Linked DNA regions of Homo sapiens: region 2 is linked to region 1. The links come from fine-mapping of genetic effects on plasma protein levels. A gene starts in region 1. The other region holds a variant in brackets. All regions are shown on one strand. Distances are between the middles of the regions.

Evidence for each region. PIP is the chance, under the fine-mapping model, that this variant and not a neighbour inherited with it causes the effect. The UK Biobank Pharma Proteomics Project read protein levels with antibody pairs (Olink). The fine-mapping took linkage between variants from a reference panel, not from the people measured, so its PIPs are less certain.
Region 2: its variant is fine-mapped to the plasma level of the SEMA4C protein (UK Biobank, PIP above 0.99).

Annotation. Positions count from the first base shown.
Region 1 is chr2:96,866,091-96,874,312 of GRCh38, reverse strand. SEMA4C (semaphorin 4C) reads left to right here and starts at 4,233. Exons shown (of 15, transcript NM_017789.5): 1 at 4,233-4,437; 2 at 6,390-6,535; 3 at 7,882-8,030. The coding sequence starts at 6,427. It overlaps LOC124908044 (collagen alpha-1(I) chain-like), which reads right to left and starts at 5,939. Exons shown (of 3, transcript XM_047446878.1): 1 at 5,895-5,939; 2 at 5,564-5,728; 3 at 3,190-5,285. The coding sequence starts at 5,939. The coding sequence ends at 4,278. RefSeq lists enhancers at 1-7, 574-1,074, 7,644-8,222 and silencers at 3,911-4,200, 4,241-4,340, 4,371-4,440, 4,461-4,560, 4,881-5,040 and 1 more.
Region 2 is chr2:99,765,183-99,773,182 of GRCh38, reverse strand. The region is part of intron 8 of AFF3 (ALF transcription elongation factor 3); the gene reads left to right. Among named protein-coding and RNA genes, the nearest start is that of REV1, 280 kb to the right of the region's middle. The variant C/G (reference allele first, on the strand shown) is at 4,689.

The sequences.
Region 1 (8,222 bases):
CGACTCAGTCCCTCCAGAGACCTGGCTGTAACCCGAGCAGAGGTGTGCACTGTGAGGTCGCCCAAGGGCGTATGCTGTCCCCTGGGGTGTGTAATGGGCCCTCTCTGGGACTGGCTGGGAGCTGACCAGATCTTCTAAAACTAGTCTGGGATCGGTTAGAGACTCAGCCTCCCCAAGGTCCAGATTTTCACAGTGGTGCTGGCAATGTGACCACTTGCCCTCCAGATCTTTGACTTTTCCAGATCCCTAAGCCCTTGGGAAAAGGCTGGGGGATATCCTGATAGGAGCCACTGGAAAATCCGCATCCGGGGCTGTGATGACGGATGTTTTCCTGCTTCCTTTTGGTACTGGTGACAGGGAGGGGCTGGGAAGGGAAAGACATCCCAGGTGGGCAGCTTTGATAACTCTCCTTTGGAGGAAGTAGGGAGGGAGAGTCCTTTTCCTATGTCCCTAGTCACCTCGGTCCCCAGGCGCGCTGACCCAAGCTTTCTCACTTCCCCATCTGTGGGATGACGGCAGTCCTGGCTGCCTTGGAAATCCACCAGGCAGCGTTCACCAGAGAACCCAGTGTCCACCCAGGGCCTCCCTCTGGCTGCCTCAGGAGAGCTAGTAGGTGAGTAGCTCAAATGAAGGGCAGTGTGGCCCCCAACCAACATCAAGAGATGGGAAGGGGGACTTGCTTTTCAGGAAAGACTCTTTAGGTCATCTCTAGGGGCTGGCCTGAGCTGCTGGGTGATCTTTGAAGACCCTTGAGAGTCATTTAGCACAATTTCTGTGTCTTTCCTTGACACGACCACAAGCAGTTGTCAAGGCCTGAGTCCCAAAGTGTGGATACCTTCCATAGATATGCTAGGCCCTAGGGAGACTAGTCAGGTACGTGCACCTCCCCCCACCCCCGGTACCTGTATTAGTAATTTTTTTATTAATTGAAGACCCAGAAATCTTTTTTTTATATCAGTTGTACTTTCATTTAGAAGTATGAATCATGAGCAAGTAGTCATGCAGGAAATTGTATCCTCTGCCCACCCACCCACAGAAAGGGCCAGTGCTGGAATGGACAGAATACAGCAGGAAGTGCATGAAGGTGGAAAAGGGGAGGGAGCTGGGAGCTTATCTCCGAGAGCGTTTGGGAGGATAGGCGCGTGGAGTCTGTTAGCTGGAGGCTTCTACATTCCTGGGCCTCCAGAACCCAAACGCCTGCCGCTGCCCTGCCAGTGAAACCAAACCGGTTGCCTTTTGAAACTTTCCACTGAGGCCACCTTGGAGTCAGAGCCAGCGAGCTCAGGTCTCTCCTGGTAACCTTCACACCTAGAGGTGGGGGGATGGGGGAGCAGTATTGAAGGTGAGGAAAAACAGCATGAAATGGAGCATTGTCAGGATAGATGGTGACTCTGTGGAAAAACAGAATCGGGAGTCCCAAGACCTGATTTAAAAATCTGAACTTTCCAGTCTGAGCAATATAGCGAGACCCTGTCCCGTGTATGATGGTGTGCACCTGTAGTCTTGGGAGGCTCACGTGGGAGGACCGCTTGAGCCCAGGAGTCTGAGGTTACATTGAGCCATGACTGTGCCATTGCACTCCAGACTGGGCAACAGAGTAAGACCCCGTTTCTAAAAAAGAAATTCTGACCTTTTTATCTCCATGACTTGGGGCTAGTTGTTTAATCTTTTTTAATTATCTCCATGACTTGGGGCTAGTTGTTTAATCTTTTTTAATTATCTCCATGACTTGGGGCTAGTTGTTTAATCTTTTTGACTCATCTCCAAAAGGGGAGCAACAATACTTATTTTTTTAATTTTGTCGAGGCAGGGTCTCGCTCTACAGGCTGGAGTGCAATGGCACAATCACAGCTCACTGCAGCCTCAACCTCCTGGGCTCAAGCGACCCTCCCACTCCAGCCTCCTGAGTAGCTGGGACTTACAGATGCATGCCACCACGCCCCCGCTAGTTTGGTTTGTTTGTTTGTTTGTTTGTTTGTTTTTGAGACAGAGTCTCCTTCTGTTGCCCAGGCTTGAGTGCAGTGGAGTGATCTTGGCTCACTACAAGCTCTGCCTCCTGGGTTCACGCCATTCTCCTGTCTCAGCCTCCCGAGTAGCTGGGACTACAGGCGCCCGCCACCACGCCTGGCTAATTTTTCTGTATTTTTAGTAAAGACAGGGTTTCACCATGTTAGCCAGGATGATCTGGATCTCCTGATCTCGTGATCCGCCTGCCTCAGCCTCCCAAAGTGCTGGGATTACAGGCGTGAGCCACCCCTCCCCGCCACGCCCCGCTAGTTTTTTTTTTTTTTTAATTTGGGGCTGGGCGTAGTGGCTAATCCCAGCACTTTGGGAGGCCTAAGCAGGTGGACCACCTGAGGTCAGGAGTTCGAGCCCAGCCTGACCAAAACGGCGAAGTCCCATCTCTACTAAAAATACAAAAATTAGCTGGGCATGGTGGCGCATGCCTGGTCAACATGGTGAAACCCCGTCTCTACTAAAAATACAAAAATTAGCCAGGTCTGGTGGCAGGCACCTGTAATTCCAGCTACTTGGGAGGCTGAAGCAGGAGAATCACTTGAACCCAGGAGGTGGAGGTTGCAGTGAGCCGAGATCGCGCTATTGCACTCCCGCCTGGGTGACAGAGTGAGACTCTGTCTCAAAAAAAAAATAATAATAATAATTTCTTTTGTAGAGACAGGGTCTCAGTATGTTGCCCTGGCTGGTCTTGAACTCCTGGGGTCAAGTGATCCTCCCATCTCAGCCTCCCAAATTACTTACTTTTTAAAGGGTGGTCATAAGGGTGAAGTAAGAAAATGTACATCAAGACAAGCTGCAAAAATCTAAAGCACAGAACACAAGTGAGGGCACTTGCATCTCAGTTTACCCTCCGCTTGAATAGATACGGGGAATAAACTAAACACGAGGGTGACACACCTTCTCCCACCTTGTCAGCTGAAGCAGGAGGCCTTCCCTGCCCACCCCATGGTCATTATCTCCAGCATCTCCAAGGCCACAGCTTTTTTTCTTTTTCCTAGTGGAAAAGAGCTGGGAAACGTGGCTTTGGCCAGCAAGGGAGAAGGGGCCATTATGTGTACCAGCAAAGACCCGATTGTTACTGAAACCAAACTGGGCTGCTTTTCTCAATTATCTCCACCACTTTTCTGGTCTCCACTTTTCAGATGCCAAGTTTTAACCCAGAACAAAAGCTGCTGTCGGACTGATTTATAATCCAGATCTGCTGACGCAGCCTGAAGTGTTCCTCCCCTCCAGGACTGCACCCTGGCTTAAAGTTACCTCCAAACCTCAGGACGTCAAGCCCCTTCACCTCTGCCTTTTGCCCCTAGCCAGGAGGTAGCATCTGTCTCCAGGTGCCCGTGGGGTGTCCTCCATGAGGACCACCTCTTCTAACCACCTGCCCAGCTCAGAGGACCAGCTGGCAGGAAAGACGCTGCACCGCCCATGAGGCCAGAGCTACAAGTTGCTTCTAGGAGTGGCTGTGGGCGGAGGCTGGTGGTTCTGAAGGTGGCGGTGGTTCTGCAGCGTGGCTCCCCACAGCCCCTTTCATCTGAACAGTAGGGCTCATGCCACTTGTTAATCAGCCTTCCAGTGGCACGAGGAGTCATTTTCTGGGGATAGGCGCTTTGCCCAAAGCGTGAGAAGCAGGAGCAGGCCCTTTCTGTTGATTGAAGGGTCTTCCTGGCTGGTGAAGCCCTTTCCAGACTTGAGGGCAGGGACCAGTGGTCCTCGGGGCCTAGAAAGAGGCAGAATTGGGGGCCAAACGGCAGACCCCTCTGGTCCGCCCCAAAAGACGCCTCGGTTCCCCCAGCGTGCCTCCCCTGGATACTCGCCTCGACGTGGCTCGCCCGCGGTCGTTCCTGCAACTGCACGGTCGGGAGTCCCTCTCCCCAGCCCAGCCCGCCCGGAGTCTTCGGGGGACACTTCAGAAAGATCGGGTGAGTGTGATTCCCCCGTGGCCATACCCGGAGTCCCTCCCCCGCCCCACCTCCCTCCAGGCGCTGTGGCGCAGCCCGCGACTCCGAGCCCCGGGGCTGCTGGACACCCGGAGGGGTTGAGGTCCGGGCACCCAGAGAGGCGGAGGTCCGAGCCCCCGGGCGGAGAGCGGGCGGGTCCACAGGTCGCTGCGGGTCGCAGCCCCCTCCTGAGCGAGCCTTCGCGGCCCGCCCCCGGCCTCCGCTCGACCCCCCCAGCCTGACGTCAAGGGGAAGGGGGCGGAGAGCCGCGGCCGCGCTGGAGAAAGAGCCGGCGCCCGCCGTGGTGGCGCGGGGAGCCCGAGCCTAGGGGCGCGGAGCCGGGCGGGGACGGAGGGGCGGTGGCAGAGAGGCCGCGGAGGGCTGGCGGGCGAGCGCGGGCAGGCGGCGACGCGGGGGCAGGGGTGGACGGCGGTCAGAGCCGAACGCGAGGGCGGCGCCCGGGGACTGGAGCTGCGCGCAATAGGTGAGCGAGGCCGGGCTTGCGTGAGGCTGGAGCCGCGGGGCCCCGGAGCCGCCGCTTTGTCCCTTTGCTTGGGCAGGGGCTGCCGGACGCGGGAGGGACAGGGGCTGGGGCGCGGGGAGCCGCGGCGGCGGAGACGGCTGTACGCGGGGATCCTTCCTGCGACCCCCGCGGCTGCTTCGCAGGGTCTCGGGAGTGGGGCGCACAGCACCTGCAGCCCCGCAGCCCCGGGGCCGGAGGGGCGCGCCAGCGAGGGTTCCTCGCGCGGTCCGGTCCGCGGCCGGGATCCTCGCCAGGCTCCTGGACTGCCCTCGGCGCTCCCACCCCCGATGGAAAGTTTGGGGCGGGCTTGGAGGGAGGCCGATGTTGTGGGATCGGATTTCCCTGCCGCGGCCCCCCGCCCGCCCGCCCATTCCGCTGGGGAGGCGGGTTGTCCCGGAAAGCCAGGCCCCCGGGCCGAGCCGGGCCGCGCCGTCCCCGGCTGGAGCGCTCGCCCTGCAGGGAGGGCCGCGGTCCACGGCTGGCCGCTCGGGGTGGGCGAGGGTGTGGGGTGCCCCGCCTGGATCCCGCACCCCTCCCCCCAACCCCTCCTCCCGGCTGCCCGTTTCCTCGCCCTGGGGGGAGCTGCGGGTGGGAGCACCGCTGCCGGGCGGATCCTCGGAGCACGCCACGGGGTGCGGCCCGATCCTCGGGTAAGGAGCCGAGATGAGGCCGCGGGCGTTTTGGGGGGCTGGTCTGGGGCGCAGCCCCCGCTCTCCCGCGCCGGGGCTCTGGGCCGACAGGGGGCGTCCGCAGGCCGGGCTCGCCACGCTCCCCGCGCCGCCGCTTTGTTTGCGTTCAAATCCCTGGAGCTGGGGGAGGGGAGAACCCGGGGGGACCCGGGACGGGGTCTTGGCGGGGACCCTTTGTTTGGGGGTGAGCAGGTCCCCAGCTTCTGCGTCTCCGCCCCTGGCACGGGAAGGCTGGAGCAGGGGAAGCCAATCCCGCTGGCCCGCCCAGGCCAGGGTCCCTGGGGCGCAGTCCCCGAGTTGGGAAGGTTCGTCAGAGTCGCGGGAGCGCAGCGGGTGCCGGCCGTGCGCGGCGCGTTGCCAGCGGCCCGGGAGGAACCCCCTCGCGTCCCCGCCCCTACCTCCCCCCGTCGCCTGCGCGCGCCGCCGGAGTCCCCGACTCGACCCGAGCTCGGTCCCCCCACCGCCCCTCCGCCAGAGGGCTGGTGTTTCGGAGGAGGCAGTGCGAGGAACAGGATGAGGCCCTGGTCATTTCCACGCCCATCCCACCCACTTCCTGCCTCCCTCTTGGGCAACAAAGGGGCCTCGGGAAGCTGGGCCCCTTCGCTCCCGGCCCTTCTCACACTCCTGCCCTGCTGATGTGGAACGGGGTTTGGGGTTCTGCAGGGCTATTGTCTGCGCTGGGGAAGGGGACAGGCCGGGACCGGGACCTCCGCTCGCAGCCGGCCGCACCAGGTTTCCCCTTTGGGGCTTTCCCGACCGCCTACCCCACCGCATGCCCTCGTCGCCCTAAGGAGTCTTCCTCCCAGAATTAGGTGTTGGCAGGGTCCGGAGCCCCAGTGGCTGCAAGGCCTGCTGCCTGAGGTTCTTTCAAGAAACTCAAACCTCTTAGGCCTGAGTGTGTATGTTGGGCGGGGGTCCCCTTTTTATTTCTCAAATGATTTCCTGTTGCGCAGAGGTAGTGGTGGGTCTGGAGGCCAGGGAGGGCTTCCCGGAGCCTGTTTAGCCTTCAGCCAACTCAACTCCTCCCCGCTTCCCAGGGAGACCTGTGGTCTTTTAGGCAGAGGCCAAGTGTGGGGACTTAGGTCCACCTCCAAAGAGAAGGGGAAGGAGGGCACCGGGGCTCCTGGAAGGCCTGATGAGGAGTCCTGTGGCCTCTCCTGCTGCGGGCCCCTCTGGTTTGCTTTCTCTGGCTGTGATTTCTGACCATGTCTTTTCCCTCAGCAGGACAGCTGGCCTGAAGCTCAGAGCCGGGGCGTGCGCCATGGCCCCACACTGGGCTGTCTGGCTGCTGGCAGCAAGGCTGTGGGGCCTGGGCATTGGGGCTGAGGTGTGGTGGAACCTTGTGCCGCGTAAGACAGTGTCTTCTGGGGGTGAGTGCCTGGAGGGGTGAGGAGGAAGTCAGGGACAGGCTGCTGAGGAGTTGCCCCCATAGTGTGCTGGCTTTATTCTCACGTGTGTGGCACAGCTTTCTAAGAAACTCGAGTTGGAAGAACGGGCAGTGTGGGTTGGGACCTGGGATTAGCCTCCTCTGGGGGAGCTCTGTCCAACTCCCCACCCCAGACTGCCTGCCCAGGTGTGGGAGGGGGAGAGCCTTCTGCCTCGCCCTCTCCACGCCTCGCTTCTTGAATTGTCACTGGCGCTGGGAGCCTAAAGAGAAACTGGAACCGGGATAAATATAAACTGGAGGCTCTCTCCCCTGGCTCCCCAGGCCCCCCTAAGACCTCCTACTGCCCTGTACACATCATACACTCTGGTGGCCCTGGAAGTGTGTGTGTATGTGCACATGCTCGCATGGTTGCCGGGGCACAGCGGGGACCCAGCAGTGCTCCCTGTGCACACACCCGTGTGAAAGGTGATGTCAGGTGTTTGTATCAGCCGTGCGCTCTGGGGACCTGGGATGAGCTCACCTCCCACAGGCTCCACTCGGGTGCCAGTGAAGCCCTGCCATGCCGGTCTGTGTCTGGATCCATTGTTGCCTGCAAAGACTAAGGCTGGTTTGGGGGGACCCTGAGGACAGGTCGGCAGCCATATTTGGCAGCTGATGTAGGAATCACGTGACTGTATAAATGTCGTAGTGCCCTGCATGCCGGGTGGCAGCAAGACTTCCCAGGCCCCAGCCCCATCTCCGCTCTCTGAGCCTCTGGTTTCTCCGGACCTCCCTGGCCTGGCTCACAGCCCAGCTCCCCTCCTGCCATCCCCACCTGTCCTAGTGGCCTGCTGTGCTCGCATCTCTGGCAGCCTGGATTGGGGTCCTGCTGGAGTGAAGGGTTTCCTGAGGCAGGGAGTACTCATAGCCGTCTGTGCCTCCTGCTCTGCTGGACTCTGATAGAGGCAGTGGGCAGCAGGGCAAAGAAGGAAGCAGCCGCCGAGGAAGCGAAGGTGGGGTGGGGGTGCCCAGCCCTGCGGCCGGAGGTGCCATTGACCCTGAGAGCAAGAGCCATCAGTCTGATGGCTTCCTCTGGCCGGAAGCTGTGGCTGAGATATCCTTCCTTCCTCCCAGCAGCCTGGATTTGCCTCCTCCCAGGCTGGGAAAGGCTAGGGAGGCCCAGGTGGGGCTGTCAGGGCCAAAGGCTGTTTCAAAAGTGTCCTTTATTGCCAATCAGGGGGTTTGGCTGGCATCTGCTTGTGGCATGGGGTGCTGGCTCTCGTGGAGCAAGACTGAGGGCTGTCGAGCCCCAGGGGTCCTGCCCATCAGCAGCCATGCTTACCCCTGCAGAGCTGGCCACGGTAGTACGGCGGTTCTCCCAGACCGGCATCCAGGACTTCCTGACACTGACGCTGACGGAGCCCACTGGGCTTCTGTACGTGGGCGCCCGAGAGGCCCTGTTTGCCTTCAGCATGGAGGCCCTGGAGCTGCAAGGAGCGGTGAGAGGTGGGGCAGTGGGAGGCAGTCGGGCCTGCCAGAGGGCAAGGCCCAGAGGGGCTGTGCTTGGCTAGGTGGTCCCTCAGCCTGGCTGCCCCCACAGAAGTGCTGCTGGGCATCCGGGGCCTGCCCTCTGGTTGGGGTCAGCATGCGGCATTCCTCTCCTCTCTGGCACTTACTGAATTCTGTGTAGT
Region 2 (8,000 bases), 2.9 Mb before region 1:
ACACTGTAGACATTTAGAGAAAGGAACTTAAGGAGGCAGTGAGCAGGTGTTTCCTGAACAGTGTGAGTCTTCTTGAAGGAAGATGTGATAGAAGGGTAGGATGTGGATGGGGAAGTGACAACGGGTGAGCAGAGCCTGCAGGTGAAAGTCGCAGAGCCTCCTTCCTGTGAACGGGAGTGGGAACCTGGCCGGTCTGAACCCAGGCTCCCATGAGGAATGGTGGGAAGCATGTGAGACACTCAATGGCCAGGCAGGCCTGAGACAAGGCTGAGAACTTGGATCTAGTCTAACAAGCAGCCACAAACCCTCTCAGGCAGGAAAGGCATTTGGGGAAGATTAATCTGGTGTCAGGATTGACGGCCTTTCCCTTAGCTGCAGTCGCCCCTTCTTTGTGTTCAACTTCATTTAATGATAGATGGTTCTAGAATTAGCCGGAGACTAGGACCTTAACTTCCCAGGGTTGGGAAGCAATTTGAGAATTAAGTCATGGTTGTTTAACTCTGAAATAAAAGTGGTGCTAGGCTTAGCCATATCACTTCAGGCTGTTCAGAATAATTTTTCTTTTAATTGCCACCATATCTTCCTGAGGAGATACAGAAGAAAAAACAAATGCTAGAAAAAGGAAGGGGCAAGTCTGAAAACATTAAGATCTTGGTTATATATTGATACAAGATTTCCAGAGCAAATACTTTCTGTTTCTCTCCCTGAGAAGAGCTGAACATAGCCAGGCAATTTCTGTGTAAAGTTCAGAGAGAATCCTGACATGTATTTGTGTGTACATTGTTCCTGAGGCAGGGTGGAATGGGTTGCATCTAATTCACTCCCTTCTTTTGGCAGACACTTAGACTATCACAGTTCTTCTCACAGGACTCACCCATGGGAAGCCAGAGGCCCCACAGACCAAGCACACGGCCTGGTCAGAACAAAGCTCCCCATTTGCCTTCCCTGCCTCTCAGGCCCCTGCCACCTCGCCCGGGGCTCATCGTCACTCTTTTCTTCCTCTTCTCTCCTTCCCTATTTTGTCCCACTTCTTGTTTATTCTTCCTCTTCTCTCCTTTCCTATTTTGTCCCACTTCTTGTTTTCTGAGGTGGAGGATGGGAAAGGGGACCAGAGTTGAGTATGAGACGAGAGAACCAAGAAGGCAGGAATACCGCATGTCGATTGCATTCACACTTAAGAAATCCTGCCGAAGCTCATTGTTCTTCATTAAATGACATATTTATGGTTTCCAATACAGTAACTTCTCAGAAAACCCCAATTAGCTATTCTTATCGCTGTTTTGCAGACTGAAGGAACATAGAAGGACACAGTGGCCCCTGCCCTGCATTCTGGCTGTATCACAAGTGACTGAGAGGCCTTGGGCAGCTCACAGAACTTCTTGGGGCCGGGTGTCCTCATCAGAAAATTTAGAAATACGTCACTTCCTGGGGTTGTCTTCACCTCCAGATTCCACAGTTTCCTGTGGCTCTGAAACCAGAGTCCACGTCTCCTCATTCCGAGTTCCACTTCTTTATACCATGTTATTCTTTTGTCTCTGAGAGCTTTGAAATATTGGGGGAATCATAAGGTCTTAAAACATAAATATTATATAAACAAGGTGACCTTTAAAATGCTTTTGTTGGAACTTTGCATCTCTAGAATGTGTTGCTGTATCCATTTGTGCCAGCCTTCTTCCTATTCAGAAACTGCTCTTGTCAGGACACCAGGGCTGAGACATCTTCCCTGGCATGCTGTTGAGTGTGAATTGCTCTGGTTTTTTTTTTTTTTTCTTCTTCATTTTTTAAGTTCTGGGATACATATGCAGGATATGCAGGCTTATTACATAGGTAACGTGTACCTCGGTGGTTTGCTGCACAGATCAACTCATCACCCAGATATTAAGCCCAGTATCCATTAGCTGTTCTTCCTGATGATCCCCCATGGCAGGCCTCAGTATGTGTTTTTCCCCACCATCCATGTGTCCATGTGTTCTCATTGTTCAACTCCCACTTATAAGTGAAAACATGCAGTGTTTGGTTTTCTGTTCCTGCATTAGTTTGCTGAGGAGAACAGCTTCCAGTTCCATCCATGCTCCTGCAAAGGACGTGATCTTGTTCCTTTTTATGGTTGCGTAGTATTCTGTGGTATATATGTACACATTTTCTTTATCCAGTCTACCACTGATGGTCCTTTGGGTTGATCTCATGTCTTTGCTATTGTGAATAGGGAGTGCTTACACTACCCCTCCTCCAAACCCAGGCAACAAAGCTCCCAGCTTCAAAAGAGACCCCTTCCTTCTGCTTAAGGACAGGAGGGGCAAGAGTAAAGAGGACTTTGTCTTGCATCTTGGTTATCAGCTCAGCCACAGAGGGATAGGGTACCAGTCAGAGCTGTGAGGCCCCATTTTCAGGCCGTACCTCTCAGAAAACATTTCTAGAGAGACACCCTGGGCCAGAAGGAGACACTGCCTTGAAGGGAAGGACCAAGTCCTGGCAAGATCCATCTCTTGCTGACTTAAAGAGCCCTTGGTCCCTGAATAACCAGCAGTGATACCCAGGTCATATGCCATGGGCCTTGGTGAGACTCTGAGACTGCTGGCTGCAGGTGAGACCCACCACATTCCCAACTGTGGTGGCTATAGTGAGAGACTCCTTCTGCTTAGAAAAGCAGAAGGAAAAGTAAAAGGGACTTGGTCTTGCACCTTAGGTACCAGCTTGGCCACAGCAGGGTAGAGCACTAAGCAGGCTCTTGGTGTCCCTGATTCCAGGCCTTGGCTGTTGGATACCATCTCTGGGCCTTCCCTGGGCCAGAGGGGAGTCTACTGCCCTGAAGGGTGAGTCCCAGGCCAGGCAGCACTCACCACGACTTGACTGAGGGGCCTTTGGGCATTAAGTTAACATCGGCAGTGGCCTGGCAGTAATCCCTGTGGGCCTGTCGTGGTCGTGGCCTTGGGATGAGGCTCTTCTGCCTGTGGAAAGGAGAGGGGACCATGGGAAGGACTGTGGCTTACAGTTGGAGTGCCAGCTCAGCCAGAGTGGAATAGAAGGCCACGTAGATTTCTAAGGTTTTTATCTTCAGTCCCTGGCTCCTAGACAGCATCTCTGGACCCAGCTGGGGGAACTCGCTGCCCTGAAGGGAAAGACACAAACCCAGCTGGCTTCACCGTCTGCCGATCATAGAGCCCTAGGGCCTTGAGCAAATACAGGCTGTAGCCAGGGAGTGGCCTTGGGTAAGACTTAGTGTTGTGCTGGCTTCAGGTGTGACCCAGCACAGTCCCAGTCGTGGTAGCCACAGGGGTGCTTATGTCACCCCACCCCCAGCCCCAGGCTGCTCAGCACAGGGAGAAAGAGAGACTCCATTTGTTTGGGAGAAAGTAAGGGAAGAGAACAAGAGTTTCTGTCTGGTATTCCAGAGAATTCTTCCTGATCTTATCCGAGACCACCAAGGCAGTACTTCTGTGAGTCTGCATGAACTACAATGTTACTGGACTTGGGGTGCCCCCTAATGCAGATACAGTGTCAGTCACAACACCCAAGTCATTTCAAATACCTGGAAAGCCTTCCCAAGAAGGACAGCTACAAACAAGCCCAGACTGCAAAGACTACAATAAGGACCTAATTATTCAGTGCCCAAACACCGGTGACATCTGCAAGCATCAACATCATCCAGGAAAACAGCCTCACCAAATGAACTAGATAAGGCATAAGGTGTCAGGGACTAATTCTGGAGAAACAGAGGTATGTGACAGAGAATTCAAAATGGCTGTTCTGAGGAAACTCAAAGAAATTCAAGGTAACACAGAAAAGGAATTCAGAATTCTATCAGATAAATTTAACAAAGAGATTGAAATAATTAAACAGAATCAAGCAGAAATTCTGGAGTTGAAAAATGCAGCTGACATACTGAAGAATGCATCAGAGTCTCTTAATAGCCAAACAGATCAAGCAGGAGAATGAATTAGTGAGCTTGAAGACAGGCTGTTTGAAAATGTATGATCGGCAAAGACAAAAGAAAAAAAGAATAAAAAACAGTGAGGCACAGGTATAAGATGTAGAAAATAGCCTCTAAAGGGCAAGTCTAAGAATTGTTGGCCTTAAAGAGGAGGCAGAGAGAGAAATAGATAGGGAGAAAGTGTATTCAAAGGTATAATAACGGAACCTAGAGAAAGGTATCAATATCCAAGGACAAGAAGGTTAGAGACCACCAAGGAGATTTAACCCAAAGAAGGCTACCTCAAGAAATTTAATAATCAAACTCCCAAAGGTCAAGGATAGATACAAAATCCTAAAAGCAACAAGAGAAAAGAAACAAGTAACATACTATGGTGCTCCAGTACATCTGGCCGCAGACTTTTCAGCGGAAACCTTGCAGGCCAGGAGAGAGTGGCGTGACATATTTAAAGTGCTAAAGGAAAAAAAACTTTTACCCCAGAATAGTGTATCTGGTGAAAATATCCTTCAAACAGGAAGAAGAAATTAAAACTTTCTAAGACAAACAAAAGCTGAGGAATTTCCTCAACACCAGACCTGTCGTATAAGAAATGCTGAAGGGAGATATTTAATCTGAAAGAAAAAGACATTAATGAGCCAGAAATCAACTGAAGGCATAAAACTCACTGGTAACAGTAAGTACACAGAAAAACAGAATATTGCAACACTGTAACTATGGTGTGTAAACTATTCTTAGGTAGAAAGACTTTTAAGATGAA[C/G]CAATCCAAAATAATAACTGCAAAAAAGAAGACCCATTTGTATGTTGTGTTGGGAAAGATGCTCAGTGAAAAAGAGTATATCACCAAACAGTATGACCTCATTAAATATACATATATTAATATAATCCCCATCTTAGTGCATGTATATAAAAATCAGATAAGTACCCAGTGCTTAACACTGGTCACCATTGACATTATCTGCAGGTGTTAGGATCCTGGGGGGTTTCACTCTCCTGCATTTGCTATTTTTTTTGCAATGTTTAACTTTTTAACCAGAAGCATATGTTATTTAAGCAGAAAATATTATGGAAATACTTTTTCAATAAATACTTTTTCAATTAAAAACTAAAATGAAATCATGTGTCCCAAACCCACCAGGGATCACATATGAAATTAAGAACTTCATTGAGTCAGGAATTGAGACTGAAAATATTGAGACACAACAATTAAGGAAGGTTAAGAATAGAGAGCAGAAGTTGCCCTGAGCCCTGCATGTGGCTCCACCAAAGTCAGAGGAAGCTGCTCCAGGCTGGGGATTCCCAGAGACATCCCACTCTGCTTGTGATCCCAAATGCCTCGAGGAGTGCAATGGCGCAATCTCAGCTCACTGCAAGCTCCGCCTCCCGGGTTCATGCTATTCTCCTGCCTCAGCCTCCTGAGTAGCTGGGACTACAGGTGCCTGCCACCGCACCCAGCTAATTTTTTGTATTTTTAGTAGAGATGGGGTTTCACCGTGGTCTCAATCTCCTGACCTCGTGATCCGCCCGCCTCGGCCTCCCAAAGTGCTGAGATGACAGGCGTGAGCCACCGCACCCAGCTGCAGCTCACCATTTCACTGATGGTGATGGCCAGTTTACTGATGCACAGCTTTAATGGTTACTATGTTATATTACATTATGCCAAATTATGCTGCTTTGGGTTACAACGTGTGATGTTACATAGTGTCATATACATGTTTACTGTCTACCTCATTTTACCAGAATGTAGCCACCTGGAACAGTGCTTAGCACAAAACACCTGTGGAATGTTTAGTGACAGAAATTGTTAGGAAGTTTATTAAAACCAAAATCTTCCCTGTAGCTTTAAACCACACATAATGTCATTTCCACAAGCCAGCCCCTCAAATGTCTGACACAGAATCCATGCCCTTCTCATGCTTCTTCTTTGCCAAAATGCTAATTAGACCCATCAGAACCATGCAGCAACTGTTCGAATATAGATCTGTTGCGTTTACATGTATTTGTTCATTGTTTATTGCTTCTCTCCTCTCATGGTGCTTACACCTCCTGAGAGCAGGGGCCATGTCTGTTGTATTCTGCTTTGTTTCCCAAGACCTAGAGTAGTCTGAGTGTCTAAATGTGTGTTTGGTTGAACGCATGCCTGAGTGTACAGGTGCACTAATAGAAACTGAACTGATTGGCTCTATTAAGTCTCAGACTGTTCAGCATGATTGTTAGACCTCTTTTCAAAACAGGGAACTGTGTCTGTGTTGTCAGTGAACATCAAGGGATAAAAACATTGGTCTGAAATTTGTAGATTGCCTATTCGCCCTTGAGTACTAAGAACCTTCCTTCTCACCTTCTCATAGAGACTCTTGTGAGATCATGTTGGCTCCCTCTTTAAAGACACATTTAGCAAGTGAGTTCAGGCTCTCACCTTCTTTAGCCATTATTAATTTAATGTCTTCCTCTTTTATCTTTATTTGTTTGCTCCCATAGAATATCTTTTCCCAATGGATAAGCACTTTATCAGGCTATACTGATTCAGTCTTCTAGAAAACTCTATTTTCTTCAAATAAAAGCAGTTGTCATCCTGTTTATATTTTGGTCCTAACTTCTCTTTTCTTGAAGATCTATGAACTTTTGGGGGGGAATGTTTTAATATTTTCCTTCTTATTCTTAAGGATAGTTTAACCTTATTTCTGAAAAAGGAGAAAGAAAAGAAAAAGAAAAGATGGTTTTTCCAAGGCTAACCAGCTTTCCTCCAGCCTCTGGATTTTACTGTCAATATCTGGAGCATGTTAGTAGACATTTTCTGTTTCCTATAAAGTCATCCTGCCTTCACATTCATCCTTAAGACCCAGAGACATCCCTGCTGTCCTAGGGCAATGCCATTCAGTGATTTATAAATCACCTCTCAAAACTGAGAAAAATACTTGCATAAAGTTAGTAGAAGCCTGCTCATTTGGAAGTGGTTTAGCTGGGAAACATTTGAAAGGGAGAAAGGCATGTGCCTTCGGCAGGATTGTCCTAACCTTCCCTCTGGTAAACCAGAAGTCCCACCTGACCGGGAACTTTGATCCTGGCCCCAGTAGTTTCCAGGGTTTATTCTTGCCCAGGCTTGTCACCTTGCTCAGCCACCTGCCTGGACAGTAATCACTGCCCTGTCATCATAGCCAGGTAGCCTCCCGCTACACTCCCAGCTTGCCTAACACCTCCTATACTACCCAAGCTGGTGCCTGCAAGGGTAGTCTATAGCATGAGGGCAAAGCTTCTAATCTGTAGAGCCCCAAACTAGAAAGAGGATGTATGCTGATTTCTAGTAACTATCCCTTTGAAGAAAAATTCCAGACCCTGAGATAGCATTCTTCCTTCCCTTTATGGACATGCTGCTTTAGTGGTGAAGGGAGTTAAGGAAGCAAATTATTGTTTAATAAGCACATTTTTATTAAGCCTTCTGTTTGACTATGAATAATTAACCAGTTAAATATTAAATAATTAAAGAGTAAAATAGATTAAAAAACAAATTCATAAACGTCTTCTATATTTATCCCCTTTCCTCACCAGGTCGAATCCAGAAGCTGTCAACACTAGTTATAAAGGTAGCAATACAGCAATAATTATTTTTTATGAGCACCTACTATGTGCCAGCTATTACGCTAGGTTCTTTGTATATTTATCACTAACCACTCAGGTAATCCTGCAAGATAGAATGATTGATACCAATTTACAGATAAGGACACTAATAATCGGAAAAGTAAACTTGCCCGAGGTCATTCTGCTGGTTTATGGCAAGGCCAAAATTATACAAGGTTTCCCAGATGCTGACTCCAAGCCCGATCTCTTCTACCCTCTGCTTCTCTGCAATTGCGACAGGGGTTTTATTGAATGCACATTTCCAAATTGTCTGTGGAAAGGGGTTCAGGAATGGGTTGTGTGGAAAACGTGGCCAAGAATGTAATTTTCACCCCCTTCTCCTTCCAGCCTCCACAGTCTTCCAGTCTGTCCCAAATAATGCCATTTTTTCCTTTAAGTATATATGAAAGAGTGGTTTGATTGTTGCAAGCCACAGTTAGTTCAACGATCATCTATT